Linked DNA regions of Homo sapiens. The protein of the gene in region 2 binds, or shares a complex with, the protein of the main gene of each other region. Each region holds a gene or a part of one and is shown on either strand. Other genes may lie near its edges.

Region 1 (8,228 bases), on a different chromosome or scaffold from region 2:
AAGTGTTATTTTGGCTTTTATTTTTTAAAAAAAGAAAAGGAAAATTGGCAATTGTATTAATCCATTCTCGAATTGCTGTAAAGAAATACCTGAGACTGGGTAATTTAATTTATAAAGAAAAGAGGTTTAATTGGCTCACAGTTCTGCAGGCTATACAGGAAGCATAGTAGCTTCTGCTTCTGGGGAGGCCTCAGGAAACTTACAATCATAGTGGAAAGGCAAAGGGGAAGCAGACACATCTTATGTGGCCAGAGTAGGAGCAAGGGGGCGCAGGAGGAGGTGCCACACACGTTTTAAACACCCAGATCTCACAAGAACACTCAAGAGGACAGTACCAAGTGGAATGCTGTTAAACCATTCATGAGAAATGCACCCCCATGATCCAGTCACCTCCCACTAGGCCCCACCTCCAAGATTGGGGATTACATTTCAATATGAGATTTGGGTGGGGACACACATCCAAACTATATCAGCAGTACTGGACATTTTTCATGAGAGAGAAGGGGCACAAGAGGATGTCTGGAGCTAGCCTCTAGAATGTTGGTGTGGAAAATCTCTCCAATGTTTGAAAAGCATACCAATTACCTAGTCCTCCATTCATTGTTCAAATGAAGAAACCCAAAAAGCAGAAGTAACTTCCCAAGGGTCACACAGTCAGTTAACAGGCAAAAGCCAGATGTCCTGGTTCTCAATCCTCGCCTGTCCCATTCTGCCACAGATACTGCAGCCAGAGGCCAGGCATGGTGGCTCACGCCTGTAATCCCAGCACTTTGGGAGGCCGAGGTGGGTGGTTCACCTGAGGTCAGAAGTTCGAGACCAGCCTGGCCAGCATGGCAAAACCCTGTCTCTAGTAAACATACAAAAATTAGCTGGGCATGGTGGCACAAGCCTGTAATCTCAGCTACTCAGGAGGCTGAGGCAGGAGAATCACTTGAACCCGGGAGGCAGAGTTTGCAGTGAGCCAAGATCACGCCACTGCACTCCAGCCTGGGCAACAGTGAGACTCAGTCTCAAAAAAGAAAAAAAAGCTTAAAAATAAAGATATAAACCGGGTGCGGTGGCTCACGCCTGTAATCCCAGCACTTTGGGAGGCTGAGGTGGGTGGATCACGAGGTCAGGAGATCGAGACCATCCTGGCTAACACGGTGAAACCCCGTCTCTACTAAAAGTACAAAAAATTAGCCGGGCATGGTGGCGGGGGCCTGTAGTCCCAGCTACTTGGGAGGCTGAGGCAGGAGAATGGTGTGAACCTGGGAGGCGGAGCTTGCAGTGAGCCGAGATCGGGCCACTGCACTCTAGCCTGGGCGACAGAGTGAGACTCCGTCTCAAAAAAAAAAAAAAAAAAAAAAAGATATAAAGAAAAAATGTTTTTGTATACTTGCAGTGTGTGTTTTAAGCTAAGTGTTATTACAAGAGTCAAATTTTACAGTTCAAAAGCTTATAAAGTTAAAACGTTACCATTAAGCTAAGATTAATTTATTATTGAAGAAGGAAAATTTTTCTTTTTAGAGACAGAGTCTTGATCTGTTGCTGTCACTGGGGTGCAGTGGCATGATCCTATCTCACTGTAGCCTTAAACTCCTGGGCTCAAGTGATCCTCCTGCCTCAGCCTCCCGAGTAGCTGGCACTACAGGCATGCACCACCGTGCCCAGCTAATTGTTTTTATTTCCTGCGGAGATGGGGTCTCACCACGTTGCCCAGACTGATCTCGAACTACTGGGCTCAAACAATGCTCCTGCCTTGGCCTTCCAAAATTTTAGGATTACAGGGGTGAGCCAGTGTACCCAGCCCATTTTTTATACTGTTTTTTTACTGTGCCTTTTCTAGGTTACATATGTTAGATACACAAATACCATTGCATTACAGTTGCCTACAGTATTCAGTACAGGAACATGCTGCACAGGTTTGTCGCCTAGGAGCAATAGGCTATACCATATAGCCAAGGTGTGTGATACACTATACCATCCAGGTTTGTGTAAGTACACTTTATGATTGCACAATGACAAAATCGTCTAACAACACATTTCGCAGAGCATATCCCCATTGTTAAGCATGGGAACTGTATAATGCCTTTATTATATATACATGACTATATAATAAGGGCTATATGATAAGCCAGAGTTACCATGGCACCACAAAATGTTTTTTAAAAAATCAGCCAAGTGGCAGGGTGCGGTGGCTCACGCCTGTAATCTCAGCACTTTGGGCGTGGTGGCACACGCCTGTAGTCCTAGCTACTTGGAAGGCTGAGGCAGGGGAATCGCTTGAACCCGGGAGGCAGAGGTTGCAGTGAGTGGTGGTCGCACCACTGCACTCCAGCCTGGTGACAAAGTAAGACTCCATCTCAAAAAAAAAAAAAAAAAAAATTAGCCAAGTGTGATGGTACATTCCTGTTAGTCCCAGCTACTCAGGAGGCTGAAGTGGGAGGATTGCATGAGTCCAGCAGTTCAAGGCTGCAGTTAGCTGTGATTGCACCACTATACTCCAGCCTAGACAATAGTGCAAGACCCGGTTGTGGGGCGGGGTTAATATATATATATATATATATACACACACACACACAACATAGAATTTACCATTTTAACCAGTTTTAAGTGTACAGTTCAGTGGCGTTAAGCACGTTCACAGTGTTGTGCAACCATCACCACCATCCATATCCAGAATTTTTCATCTTCTCAAACTAAAACTCCCCACCTATTAAATACTAACTCCCCATTCCTCCCTTACTCACTGGCAACCACCATTTTACTTTCTGTCTCTATGAGTTCCGTTATTCCAGGTACCTCATACAGTATTTGTCCTTTTTTTTTTTTTTTTTTGGAGACAGAGTCTTGCTCTATTGCCCAGGCTGGAGTGCAGTGGCACAATCTCAGCTCACTGCAACCTTCCCCTCCTAGGTTCAAGCAATTCTCCTGCCTCAGCCTCCCGAGTAGCTGGGACTACAGGCCCGTGCCACCACGCCCGGCTAATTTTTTGTATTTTTAGTAGAAGCGGGTTTTCACCAGGTTAGCCGGGATGGTCTCGATCTCCTGACCTCATGATCCACTGGCCTCAGCCTCCCAAAGTGCTGGGATTATACAGGCATGAGCCACCACACCCGGCCTTGTCCTTTTTTTTTTTCTTTTTTTTTGAGAGAGGTGCCACTCTGTCGCCCAGGCTGGAGTGCAGTGCCACAATCATGGCTCAGTTCAGCCTCAACCTCCTGGACTCGAGCGATTCTCCCACCTCAGCCTCCTGAGTAGCTGGGGCGACAGGCATACATCTGCACGCCCGGGCTAATTTGTGTGTGTGTGTATCTTTGGTAGAGGTGGGGTTTCTTTCTTCCTTCTCCTCCTTCTCCTTCCCCTTCTCTTTTTTTTTTTTTTTTTTTTTTGAGACAGAGTCTCACTCTTGTCGCCTAGGCTGGAGTGCCGTGGCATGATTTCGGCTCACTGCAACCTCCGCCTTTCAGGTTCAAGCAACTCTGCCTCAGCCTCCTGAGTAGCTGGGATTACAGGCGTGAGCCACAGCACCTGGCAAATTTTTATATTTTTAGTAGAGACGGGGTATCGCCATGTTGGCCATGCTGGTCTTGAACTCCTGACCTCGGGTGATCTGCCTGCCTCGGCCTCCCAGAGTGCTGGGTTTACAGGCGTGAGCCACCACGCTCGGCAAGATGGAGTTTCGCCATGTTGGCCAGGTTGGACTCGAACTCGAACTCAGTGGTTCCGAACAACTTGGCCTCCCAAAGCGCTGGGATTACAGGCATGAACCACCGCACCCCAGCCCAGCATTTGTCCCTTGGTGGACTGCTTTATTTCACTTAGCATAACGTCCTCAAGGTTCATCTATGTTGCAGCAGGTGTCAGAATTCCCTTCCTTTTAAAGGCTGAATAACATTGTGGTATACACCCCATTTTGTTTATCCGTTCATCTGTTGGTGTGTATTCAGGCTGTTTCTGCCTTCGGGCTGTTGTGAAGAATGCCGCTATCAACATGGGTGTGAGAATATCTGTTCAAGTCCCTGGCTATATTTAAATTCTTTTGGATATTTAGCCAGAAGTGGAATTACTGGATCATCTGGTAATTCTATTTTTGATTTTTTGAGGAACCACCAATACTATTTTTCACAGCAGCCGCAGCATTTTACACTCCCACCAGCAATGCACAAGGGTTCCATGAAATCACTAATTTTATAACATTTTTCCTGATTACATGTTCACTGTAGAACATTTAGAAAATGCAAGAAATAAAATTTAGAAAATTAAAATTCCCCTTATTCTACATACCGGGACATGACTTGAATTTTTATTATCCCCAACAAAGGGAAGAGAGCATTTTTTTGGGACGATTGCGTTGCTATAGTGCCGAGGCCTGCCCTGCCCGGACCTTATTCTCAAAGCCCCGCCGATCCCGCCGTCCCCGCGACCCCAAGCGTCAGCAAAGTTTATGCAGTTGAACTGGATTCTGAGTATATCTGTGGATAGTTCCTGGGAGAGTCGCAGATACGACACGGGGTTGTCACATTCTCTATGGGTCTGTTTCCTCATCTTTAAAAGCCATCTCTGCGTTGCTAAGGCAAAGCATAAAATGTTTGAGGAAAGCGACTTTTCTAGAAAGCACGTTCTACAAACACACCATCCACGTTCCAAACTGAGCTTCGGTGTTTTGACTGGAGGGCACCTGAGGACGTCAGTACGGTCCCGCAAAGACCAGCAACCAGATTGGCAAGCAGGGGGCAGGAGAATTTCCCGCCCCATCTCTTTAGTTGTCTATTGGTTGATTTTACCATCAGTCTCCCCTGTCCTCCTATCATCGCCGCTATATTTGTGTCTCGGTGCATACTCTCATTGGCCCTACCTGCAGTCGCTCTACGTAAGGGGCGTTCCAGAGTCAGCCACTGGGAGTCGCTGGATTCGGGTTTTAAAAAACGCCGGCCGTGAAGTGGGCGGAGCGAGCGATTTGAACGCGAGCGGCGCGGACTTCTGCCAAGCACCGGCTCATGTGAGGCTCGCGGCACAGCGTTCTCTGGGCTCCCCAGAAGCCAGCCTTTCGCTCCCGGACCCGGCAGCCCGAGCAGGAGCCGTGGGACCGGGCGCCAGCACCCTCTGCGGCGTGTCATGGGCCCGCGCCGCCGGAGCCGAAAGCCCGAGGCCCCGAGGAGGCGCAGCCCGAGCCCGACCCCGACCCCCGGCCCCTCCCGGCGGGGCCCCTCCTTAGGTAACCGGCCGCGGCCCCATCTCGAAGAGGAGAAAACCGAGGCTCGCAGGCGGAGCCCGGATCTCCCGAGTCCCGATCCCGTGGCACTTCCCTGTTGGGGGACAACGCGGTTCCGCCGTCCGGCATCCGCTCCGGGCACGGGCGGTGCCAGCCCTGCGAGGGGCTGGAGCAGGCGGTTCCGAAAGCGGGAAGGGACCGGCTTAGCCACTTGGCTCCTAACGCCGTCTTCTTGTTAGGACTAGTGGTTACCCAGCGCCCACCGCCCACCGCCAACCAGGCATTGCCTCCCACTGTTCGTGCGTTATCTCAGCTTCATATTGTGCCCATTTTACAGCTAATGAGAAAGCCGAGGCACAGGCCAGAGAGCTTGAGCAGAGTCACACAACTTGGTGTTCTGGCGGACACGGGATTTCCAATCCTCTGTGTTTGTGCATTTTTAAATTGCAAAAGTATTGACTGCTTTCGGTGACGATTTCAAACAGGAGTCCTCTTAGGAGGTGTCTTTCAGGGGTTTTTTTTCCCTTCCGGGAGAGGCTGTTAGGCCTTGAACCGAGGCCCTCTGCGCTGCTCACTCTGTTGCCTTCCAGAGCTTGTGTCCGGGAAAAGGGGCCGAAGTCTGTGTCTTAATTGTCTATGGTGGGCTGGTGGATGGGAGACCCAACGGCAGGAGGAGGCAGATGCCTGTATGGTACATGGTGGCAACAGCTGCTTTACTTATCTCTTAACTCTTGCTACGTAGCTATGAGGAAGATGGGAAGTGTATTGTAGTTTATTTGTTTCATTGCTTTTTGTAGAGACTGGGTCTCCCTGTGTTACCCAGGCTGGTCTCAAACTCCTGGCCTCAAGTGATCCTCCTGCCTGGGCCTCCCAAAGTGCTGGGATTGCAGGCATGAGCCACTGTGCCTACAGGCTTTTTTGGGTTTTTTGTTTTGTTTTGGAGACGGAGTCAGGCTTTGTCGCCCAGGCTGGAGTGCAGTGGCGCGATCTCCGCTCACGGCAAGCTCCGCCTCCTGGGTTCACGCCCTTCTCCTGCCTCAGCCTCCCGAGTAGCTGGGACTACAGGCGCCTACCACCACGCCCGGCTAATTTTTTGTATTTTTGGTAGAGACAGGGTTTCACCGTGTTAGCCAGGATGGTCTTGATCTCCTGACCTCGTGATCCGCCCACCTCGGTCTCCCAAAGTGCTGGGATTACAGGCGTGAGCCACCGCGCCCGGCCGGCTTTTTGGTTTTTTGTTGTTTTTTTTTTGAGACCCATCGCCCAGGTTGGAGTGCAGTGATGCCACGAGGGTTCACTGCAGCCTCAACTTCCCAGGCTCAGGTGCTTCTCCCAGCTCAGCCTCCCGAGTAGCTGGGACTACAGGCATATGCCACCATGCCGGCTAATTTTTTGTATTTTTAGTAGAGGTGGGATTTTGCCATGTTGCCTAGGCTGGAGTAGGTTGTTTCTAGATGTTGCTGTTGCGAATGGGATTTTTTTTCTTTCCCAAAACACGAGGATTTAACCTTTGCTTCCAGCCAACTTGCTGAATTCTCGTTCACCCTAGTCGTTTTTAGTTGCTCCAGTTGGAATTTTTAAGTAGACTATTATGTCATCTGCAAATAACTTTTGAATCTTCCGTTTTCATTTCTACACATTTTATTTATTATTGTATGGTACTAGTAAGGCCCTGAGACTCACTAAGAGTGGTGTTTTGGTCATCTTTGTCTTGTTTGTAATTTTAACAGGAATATTAAGTATGATGTTTGCTGTTGCTTTCCAAGGTAGAAGCATCCTTCTACTCCTGGTTAAATGGAAGGTTTATCTCAAATGGGCAGTCAACACTTCTTGGCAGTCCTACCACCTTTGTCTGGTATTCTTTCTTCAATTTTCGAGACAGAGTCTCACTCTTGTCATCCAGGCTGTAGTGCAGTGGTGCTATCTTGGTTCATTGCAGCCTTGACCTCCTGGGCTCATGCAGTCCTCCTGCTTCACCCTCCTGAATAGCTAGGATGACAGACCTGCACCACCATGCTTGACTATTTTTAAACCTTTTTTGTAGAGACAAATTGTTTTGTCTCTACAGAACAAAAAAAAAACAGCCATCGTGCCTGGCCTTTGTCTGGAATTCTTGCTTTTCCATTCTCCCCATGACTATTTCATACCTTTTTCTCCCTCCTCGACTTCCTACAGCTCCATTCCCCCCACTCACTCTTAGCCAATAATGGCCTTGACTAGGTGTCCCCCTTCCTATCAAAGCCCTTCCTTCTACATGGGGTCTTGGTCATATCCTTCTTTCACCTACAGAGGAGCTTTCTACCTGTGCTTAGATAAATCCAGACACTTCACACTGGCATCGGCACATATGCTCTAGTATTTATGATGTTTTGTTTTGTTTTGTTTTTGTTTTTGTTTTTGAGACGGAGTTTCCCTCTTGTTGCCCAGGCTGGAGAGCAACGGCGTGATCTCGGCTTACCGCAACCTCTACCTCCCGGGTTCAAGCGATTCTCCTGCCTCAGCCTCCCGAGTAGCTAGGATTACAGGCATGCACCACCGCATCCGGCTAATTTTGTGTTTTTAGTAGAGACGGGGTTTCACCATGTTGGTCAGGCTGGTCTCCAACTGCCAACCTCAAGTGATCCGCCCACCTTGGCCTCCCAGAGTGCTGGGATTACAGGCCTGAGCCGCTGCGCCTGGCCGTATTTACGATCTTAAGAGAAAGGGCAGGAGTGTTTCCTTGACCCCACATTCTCACTTCCCTATACCTCCCATTTCCCTCTACTTCCCTTCATAGCTGTCCTTTTAAAATAGCCAGACTTGTTAGGTCCACATACATTGCATCTGATTCCTCCCTTCCTAGTGACCCTACAACCCACTCCAATCTGACTCCCCACAACCACTACCCCCACTTCTAATCTGCTTGAACTACTCCTGTCAGGGTCACTAGCACCTTTTGTAGTGCCAAATCCAGTAGGTGGGTCTGTGTTCTTACTGTGTCTCAGAAGCATTTGACGCAGTGGGCCTCTTTCTCCTTGAAGCGTTCTGTTCC
Region 2 (8,254 bases):
TTCTAATGCTTTGAGTTACAATGTGCTATATAAGTATTAGTTTTACTATTTTTTCATTTCCCCATAAATTTATAACTGACAGCAAGAGACATGTTAATATTTTGATAATTTTTTTTTTTTTTTTTTTTTGAGGCTGAGTCTCGCTCTGTCTCCCAGGCTGCAGTACAGTGGCGTGATCTCGGCTCACTGCAGCCTCTCTCCCAGGTTCAAGCAATTCTCCTGCCTCAGCCTCCCGAGTAGCTGGGATTACAGGCGTACACCACCACTCCTGGCTAATTTTTGTATCTTTATTTTTATTGTTTTTGAGACGGAGTCTCGCTCTGTTGCCCAGGCTGGAGTGCAGTTGCACGATCTCGGCTCACTGCAAGCTCCGCCTCCCGGGTTCATGCCATTCTCCTGCCTCAGCCCCCCGAGTAGCTGGGACTACAGGCACCCGCCACCATGCTCGGCTAATTGTTTTGTATTTTTTAGTAGAGACAGGGTTTCACCATGTTAGCTAGGACGGTCTCGATCTCCTGACCTCGTGATCCGCCTGCCTCGGCCTCCCAAAGTGCTGGGATTACAGGCGTGAGCCACTGCGCCCAGCTAATTTTTGTATTTTTAGTAGAGACGGGGTTTTGCCACGTTGGCCAGGCTGATCTTGAACTCCTGACCTCAGGTGATCCGCCAGCCTCAGTCTCCCAAAGTGCTAGGATTACAGGCGTTAGCCACCGCCTCCAGCTGATAATTTTTTTTTAAAGGTCATGAAACAATCAGAATTTTTCCCAAGCAAAGATCGGTTTGCATGGTTTCAGCTTACAGGGTCTTTTTAAGGGTCCTGTACTACTTTGCAAAGCAATGACTGCCTGAAATTTAAAAACAGTATCCTACATTACTTGCCAATTTTCACTCAGGGTAATTTAAGTCCTCTCAAGAGTAAAATTACAATGCAGAACCATTTTATTAAGCTTTTGAAAATCTTAATGTGTTTTCAATGACAAAATTTCCTTTGTGTGAGTAGAAAATAAGTTGACTAGAAGTAAACTATCCTATCTTATAGGATGCAGAATGGAGATCTACAGAATAGTGTTATTTGTTGTGATCTTAAGAGAAACAATGTGTACATAATAGAATATAACTATAACTAATAAGCAATGGTTGACACAAAGGTAATTTAGGAAATGTAAAGATCAGTTAATTTATATAGCACTTTACAATTAATGACACATTGCAGACCTTAACAACTCATAGCGTGGTAAAACTATTTTGTAAACATTGCTGCCACCTACCTGTACATTGCAAGCACATTTTATTAACTTTTCCATTATGGTCTACATAGCATAGATAGCATTTCTATTGGAGGATAATTTTTTATCAGAAAAGGATACTTAAATGAATCTCCTTAACAGAGGGACCAACATTTGGCAGTAAGGAGTAAAAGAAAAAAAATTACATTATAAAAAAAAACCAAAATCATAAAACTAAGTCTATTTTATCTTAGCAAATATTGTTATAATTGTGACTATGCTATACTTTTTAGAAGAAATTCATTTTTCATGTGTAATTTTTCTGACAAAATTATATGATAGTCATTTGCTAATATTTTCACTTTTGACTTTTGCAGAATAAATAATAAATGTTTTTGCAAAAGTTTTTAGAACTTAAGCAATTTTATTAAGTTCAAGTTTCCCCATCATTTTTCTATGAAATATTTCAAACATACAGAGAAACTGAAAGAGTATTGTTAATAAACACACCAATGAACTAGATTCAATAATTGTTAATATTTTGCCGTATGTATTTAACTATCTCAATCTCTTTATGATTAACAATTTCAAAGTACTTACAAATATCACAAGACATTTTACCTCTAAATACTTTGATATGCATATCCTAAGAGTAAGGACAAATTACATAGACATAATCACATTATAATACCTAAGAAAACTTTACAATTCTCTAATATCATCTGAAAATTAATTTTTTCATTTTCACTTATTGCTTAATGCTCTTTACAGTTACTTTGTTTTGAACTAGACTCTAATCAAAGTTTACACATTGCATTTGGTTTTCATACAGTGCCTTTGAGTCTCTCTCATTTTCTCTTTCTCTCTTTTATCATCGCTCTCACAGATTTACTGAGGTATAATTTACTGTAAAAGTCACTATTTTGGCCAGGTGTGGTGGCTCATGCCTGTAACCCAGCAATTCGGGAGGCAGAAGCCAGAGGATCACTTGAGCCCAAGAGTTCAGGACCAGCTTGGGCAACATAGGAAGATCCCATCTCTACAAAAAATTAAAAAAAAAAAAATTAGCAGGGTGTGGTGGTGCATGCCTGTGGTCCCAGATATTCACGAGGCTGAGGCAGGAGAATCATTTTAGCCCAGCAGGTAGAGGCTGCAGTGGGCCTTGATTGTGCCACTGCACTCCAGCCTGGGCAACCAAGCAAGACCTTTCTCAAAAAAAAAAAGGTCGCCTTTTTCAGGGGCACAGTTCTAACTAGGAATTTTGACAAATAGATATAGCCATGTAACTACCATCGTAATCAAGACATAGAATATTTTCAGCACCGCAAAAAGTTCCCTCTTATTCCTTTACAGTCTTTTTTCCCCCACCCTCCTCAACCCCTGGTAACCAGCGATTTGATTTCTTTTCATACAGTCATTGATGTCCAGCTTCTTTCACTTAGTACAGTGCTTTCAAGATTCATCCATATTGTATATCAGTAGTTTGCTTTTATTGCTGAAGAGTATTGCACTGCATTGAGGTACATTTGTTTATCCACTCACCAGGACAGATGCACATGTTAAGCTGTGGGGTGGGAATGAATACAGACTAATTTTTAAGTGTTAGTTCAGTTGTGAATATTTTTGTGCTAACACTTAATGGAAGACACTTTGGTAGTAAATACCCATACCATAGTTATTTGATGGAAATCAAAGATCTAAAACAAAATATTCTTTGAAATAGTTTCAAGATTTACAAATTTTAAATTATGTACCTAAAACCATAAGTAACGAAAAGTTTTTTTTACTTCTCTTTCAAGCCAAATTTCTGGATACTTTATGTTCCCATATACACATCTAATTATGTATATGTTAATACTTCCATATACTGATATGTAAATACACACATGCACACACACCCCTTAACTAGGTAAGTAGTTGTGAAAGAAAACTTCAAGATTGTCCTAGCAGTTCATAAGAAGTAATCTTTGATGTATTTTGGGGGGAGATTTATAACGACAAACTTGGGTTTTTAAATAAATATTACTCCCCCCATTAATTAGCAATCCTATTTTAGGATACTAAAACCATGGTGGGCTATTAAGTACTACAACAAGTACATATGGAAGTAAAACGTTTCTCTGGAAACTGTGGAGTCTCCACAACTGTTTTTATAAGAGTACTGCTCTATTTTCTTTAGAACAGTTAATCCTCAACGCCCTCTGTGGCCTGCTTTCTGCAGCAGCACAAGCCATTGCATTCCAAATTTCTCAAAATAAGTGTGGGACTTAGTTTCCAGTGGAAGCAGGAGGATATAATTTTACATGTGGGACTTTACATCTATAATCGTGCTTGCTAAAATTTCTTACCCAGAGGCAAAGAGTGTAGTGATTAAGAGCTCAGTTGTGGAGTGAGAATTCTTGGGATAATAACCCATCCTACCATTTAGTGGTGATGTGATCTTGGGTAAGACACTTAGCTCTCTGTGTTTCAGTGCCCTTGTTTATAAAACAGGAATATTAATTGTTCTCTTCAATGCATGCAAAGCATTTCAGAACTGGGCATAGAGTATGCAGTCAATAAATGTTAGTGTTTATCATTATCTATTCCAAATGTGACAGCACCAAATTATAAGTTGGACTGATTGGCAAAACTGCCAAACATAGTAAAAAACTCTCCATAATGATTCCAATAGCTTTATTATTGAATTCTTACTATGTTCCAAACATTGTGCTTAGATCTTAACAGGAATTATTCAATTACAACATCTCAACCACTTTAATAGTATTCTCATTTTGCAGACAAGAGAATTAAGGAACAGATAACTTAGTTGCCCATAATGGCAGAATTAATGGAATGGAGTGCAATCCAGGCCTAATTTCAGTCAGAGATCATAGTTCCTTTTTTTCTATCAAAAAAATAAATAAAATAAAAAAATTGGCCTTCATAGTTGACAGCATTTGTTAAAGCACTACATGTTTTAAAAATCTATTAGCTCAACTCCTGATTAATGTATTTATTCAATTAGTAAACTATTTTCTGATTAGAATTTTCTTGTAATTTTAAATTAAATAATAAAATAAGATACAGCTTCATAGAATCATACACTGGTCAGGTGAGAAGTCTTCAGAGCGTCTAATTTAGACTTCCATTCTATCACTATGGAAACACCCAGAATGGTGCCGCAATTTTGCCCTCCATAACATAGCTAGTCAATGGCTGGCAGGTTTCAGGATTCTGTATAGAATTCTTTTCAGTGCATCATACTTAAATGATAGATATTTACGTGGGTCATTTGTTGGCAATGCATCATAAAAATATCGCCCACATACTTGAAAAAGAATACAAGCCATCATCACCATTATTATACATAATTATTCAATTATTTTCAGAGATGATGGTTAGATGGGCTGGGCGTGGCTGACGAATCTGCATTAGAAAAATCTCTTCAAAAAAAGATTCTATTAAAAAAAAAGTCGTCTGCAATTTCTACCTCTCATCCTTCCAAGTATTACTTATTATTCCTTAATAGAACTGTTGAGAAGTTTTACATTGGGCACAAGGAGCGGTTCCCAGGATCGTGCCTTCCTAATAAAAGCCCAGTCTCGCGCCTGTCCCGGGCGCGGCGCTGAGGAAGGGAGGTGGGAAGAGCAGAGCGGCTAGAGGTAGGGCGGGCGGGTGGGTCTGCAGGCTGGAGGGCCGTTGGCCTGGAGCATGAAGGGGCGAGCCCACTAACGGCTTGCTTCCTATTGGACGGCGCGGCCCGTTTTGCGCATGTGTCTCCGGGTTCAAACCCAGGCACAGGCCAAGCGTTCTTGTTTGTTGAGGGCGGAGCCAATGGCGGGGGAGTGTTGTTAGCGCGCGCCTTCCGGATCGCAGCTCTCGCGGCAGTCGCCTGAGACTTAAGGTTATTGCTTGGCCGCGGCCTGGTATTCCGGCGATTCGTTTCTTGCTCGGCTTCCTGGAGCTGTGGTCCGTGTGGGCTTCCACCTCAGACAGTTGCGCTGGCTCAGCGGGGCCGGAACATGGCTGCGTCCGGTCTGGTAAGTGCAGGCCCCCCGCTCCAGGCGAGTGGTTGAGCGGCTGGCTGGGGCACGGGCGCCCGAGGCTGGGGAGAAGGAAATGCTAGGCTGAGGCTGTGATCTCTGAGGGATTTCAGTGGGAAAGCCGCAGGAATTTTTGAAATCAAGTGTGATCGTGTGTCGATAACCAGAGTTAATTTACTGTACTTTTATTATTTCTTAAGTTTTCATGTCGTCATTTCGTCTGTGCCTACGTCTTACTCTTGAGAGGTGCTTGTGATTTCTGCTGGGTTTTTTTTTGTTTTTGTTTTTGAGACGGGGTCTTGCTCTGTCCCCCAGGCTGGAGTGCAGTGGCGCGATCTTGGCTTCTGCTTTTTAGTCTAGCTCCAGTTCCTAGGCCTCCAAATAACTTTTCTCCCCATGGTAGAAGTATTGAAACGCCTTAAAAGTGTGTCTTTGCGTCACACTTGGTAGTTGGGAGAAACAGATTATGTAACAAGTACGTCTCGAAATAATTTGACGTTTTCAGTTCTTCTGTCAAAATGGTGGCCTTTTATGCAGTTCTTGAGGCTGATTTATGGAGCATATGTTATTGACAAACTCTTCTGAAAGACAGCTATCAGTTAAAAGGTACAAGCTGTGAATGACTAATGGGGGCGACAACTCATTTTGTTTACATATTTCTGGACTTCTTTGGTGTTCACTATTCTATATTTCATACTTTGGTTATGGTTACTATATAAAAATCCGTATCATTTCTTTTCTAATTTATCTCCCCTTCTAAGAAAATCTTCAGCTTCGATGATCTCCCATTATGTGACGTTATACATATAAACATAAAGAGTTGTATGAAAGAATAATATAATCTATACTTTTTACTATGAGCACATATATTGTTTACATTATATATAATCAGAAGAAAGCAATAAAGCCATTCTCACTGTGGGGAGAGAAGCGGAATAAAGCTTACCAGATGCCTGCAGTTCAGTTTTTAAATGCCTGTCATAACCTATGTTATGTCATAACATAACCTCAAAATTGTTTTGAGCCCTTAGGAGATGTTTGGTGTATAGCATGCCCATACTGGATGAAGTTACTTTGAAAATAAATTTTACTCGACTCTATCTTAAAGAAACCAAATTGATGATTTACTTTTCTTTCAGGATCATCTCAAAAATGGCTACAGAAGAAGATTTTGTCGACCTTCCAGGTGATTTACGTACTTAAGCTTTTAAGATTATTTTTATTCTCATCGTTAATAGATTTTTAAATGAAGAAAGGAAAAACTATCACCTCTGACTAATATAATGATTTCTGTGCCCACTGATTAAGGGTAGTCATCTTATACTAACGGGAATGTTAATGCAAGCAGTGCAATGACTTTGTGGCTGTGAAAAAAGAAATTCACCTGATAAAATAGTGGAACCAGGAAGAGGGAGTCTCAGTTCTGACTAAGTGACTGCCATGGGAAAAGCATTTTGTAGAATGAATCAAATGGTAAAATTAGAAAGATGTAGCTTATTCAGTGGGGCAAAAAGAAAAATAGTACATGCTGTCGTGCATTTGTTGAGTGCTTGTTTGGGTTGTTTTGGTTCTTCTTTTAGTTGTAAAACCTGTAAAAAGTAAATTTTCTAGTTAAATATTTACTAGTAATAGGATGAAAAGCATGTTTTTAAAAGTGAAGATGTTATTATGAATAACGTCATGTTTATTGAGCTGTGATTTTAGTAGGTCCAATGGGGCACAGAAGTATGTTCTTTTGTTTACAAGAAGCTTAGATTTCTGTTGGGAAAATGTATATGTACATTTGTGAAACAATTTAATGGACAAAAATTATTACTTGCAATACTGAAGTAATGACTTGTGTATCATAGAGAGTAGGCCTATATATAATTAGGCATTAACTTGCAGTATAGACAGCCATGTGAGAAATTAGGGATTTGTGTGTTGTTGATATTAAGAAAAGCTTTAAAGTTGTAGTGTAACTTTGGTGGACCTTGAACAGGTATTTAAAGACTAAGATAAAGTATATTCCAGACATAGAAAGTAACTTAACGAAGGAACCAAAGTAGGAATACATATATTTGTCAGTAGCAGAGAGACCTGATTTAAGAAGGTTGAATATGTTGGGTAGAAGTGGAAAACAAGACCATATGAGTTGGATTGAGCCATAAAATGGATATGTTAGGCTTTAGGCATCTATTATAGGCTTGAATAAGCTCTCCTAAATCTTCTGTGGAATAAGGGCTATCTGATATAAACACACACACACATTTAAAAAAGCAAAGATGTTTGATGTTTACAAAGTAGCTTAAGGAGGGTGTTGTAGTAATCTACACATGGTGGAGGTGCTTTTATGCTAAGGTAATAATGACAAAGGGGAAGAAAAGACGAATTTGATAAATTTTGAAAAAGCTGTTGCCTAATGTGACCTGCGTTCTAATAGTGACTCTGCATTATCACCTTGGCAAATCTGATCTTTTTGGATCTCATCCTTGAAACAGGTAATAGCAGGAGTGTATTTATAGCTGTGCAATATGTGCACCTGTAGGTGGTATTTTGGGGTGATGTCAAGGCCAGAATTTATAATAGTCACCTATATATATTCTGGTAGAAAACCGGCCACTAATACTACTTAGGTTTACAAACTGAGGTAGGCCATTTGACCATTTTGGGTTTCAGTTTGCCTATCTGCAAAATGAGGGCATAGGATTCAGCTAGGGGTTTTTAACTAGATTTGCACATCAGAATTACCTCCATCACCCTAGGAAATCTAATTAAATTGGTTTGTGGGAAGTGACCAATTAAGTGTATTTCTGCAAAGCTCCAAAAGTAACTTTACACATCTATTTGGATGATGATTATTGGACTGGATGATTTCTGAGATCTTTCAGTTATAAAACTTTATGATGGATGACCTGATAATGCACTGTGGCTCACAGTTTTTAATTACTGCATATATAGTACTTTTCCAGCTCTCAATAATAGGAATGTTGTAGATCAGGGATCAGTAAACTCTGGCTGATA

Evidence for each region. Proteins that work in one complex are often made in the same cells at the same time.
Region 1: CENPC (region 2) and CENPA share a complex: the UniProt entries of both Homo sapiens proteins name them as parts of the CENPA-NAC complex.

Annotation. Positions count from the first base shown.
Region 1 is NC_000002.12:26,781,097-26,789,324, forward strand, and holds the start of CENPA (histone H3-like centromeric protein A), read left to right. Parts: upstream 1-4,959; 5' UTR 4,960-5,100; coding exon 5,101-5,200; intron 5,201-8,228. UniProt on the Homo sapiens protein: Histone H3-like nucleosomal protein that is specifically found in centromeric nucleosomes. Replaces conventional H3 in the nucleosome core of centromeric chromatin that serves as an assembly site for the inner kinetochore.
Region 2 is NC_000004.12:67,542,332-67,550,585, reverse strand, and holds the start of CENPC (centromere protein C), read left to right. Parts: upstream 1-5,082; 5' UTR 5,083-5,230; coding exon 5,231-5,248; intron 5,249-6,390; coding exon 6,391-6,437; intron 6,438-8,254. UniProt on the Homo sapiens protein: Component of the CENPA-NAC (nucleosome-associated) complex, a complex that plays a central role in assembly of kinetochore proteins, mitotic progression and chromosome segregation.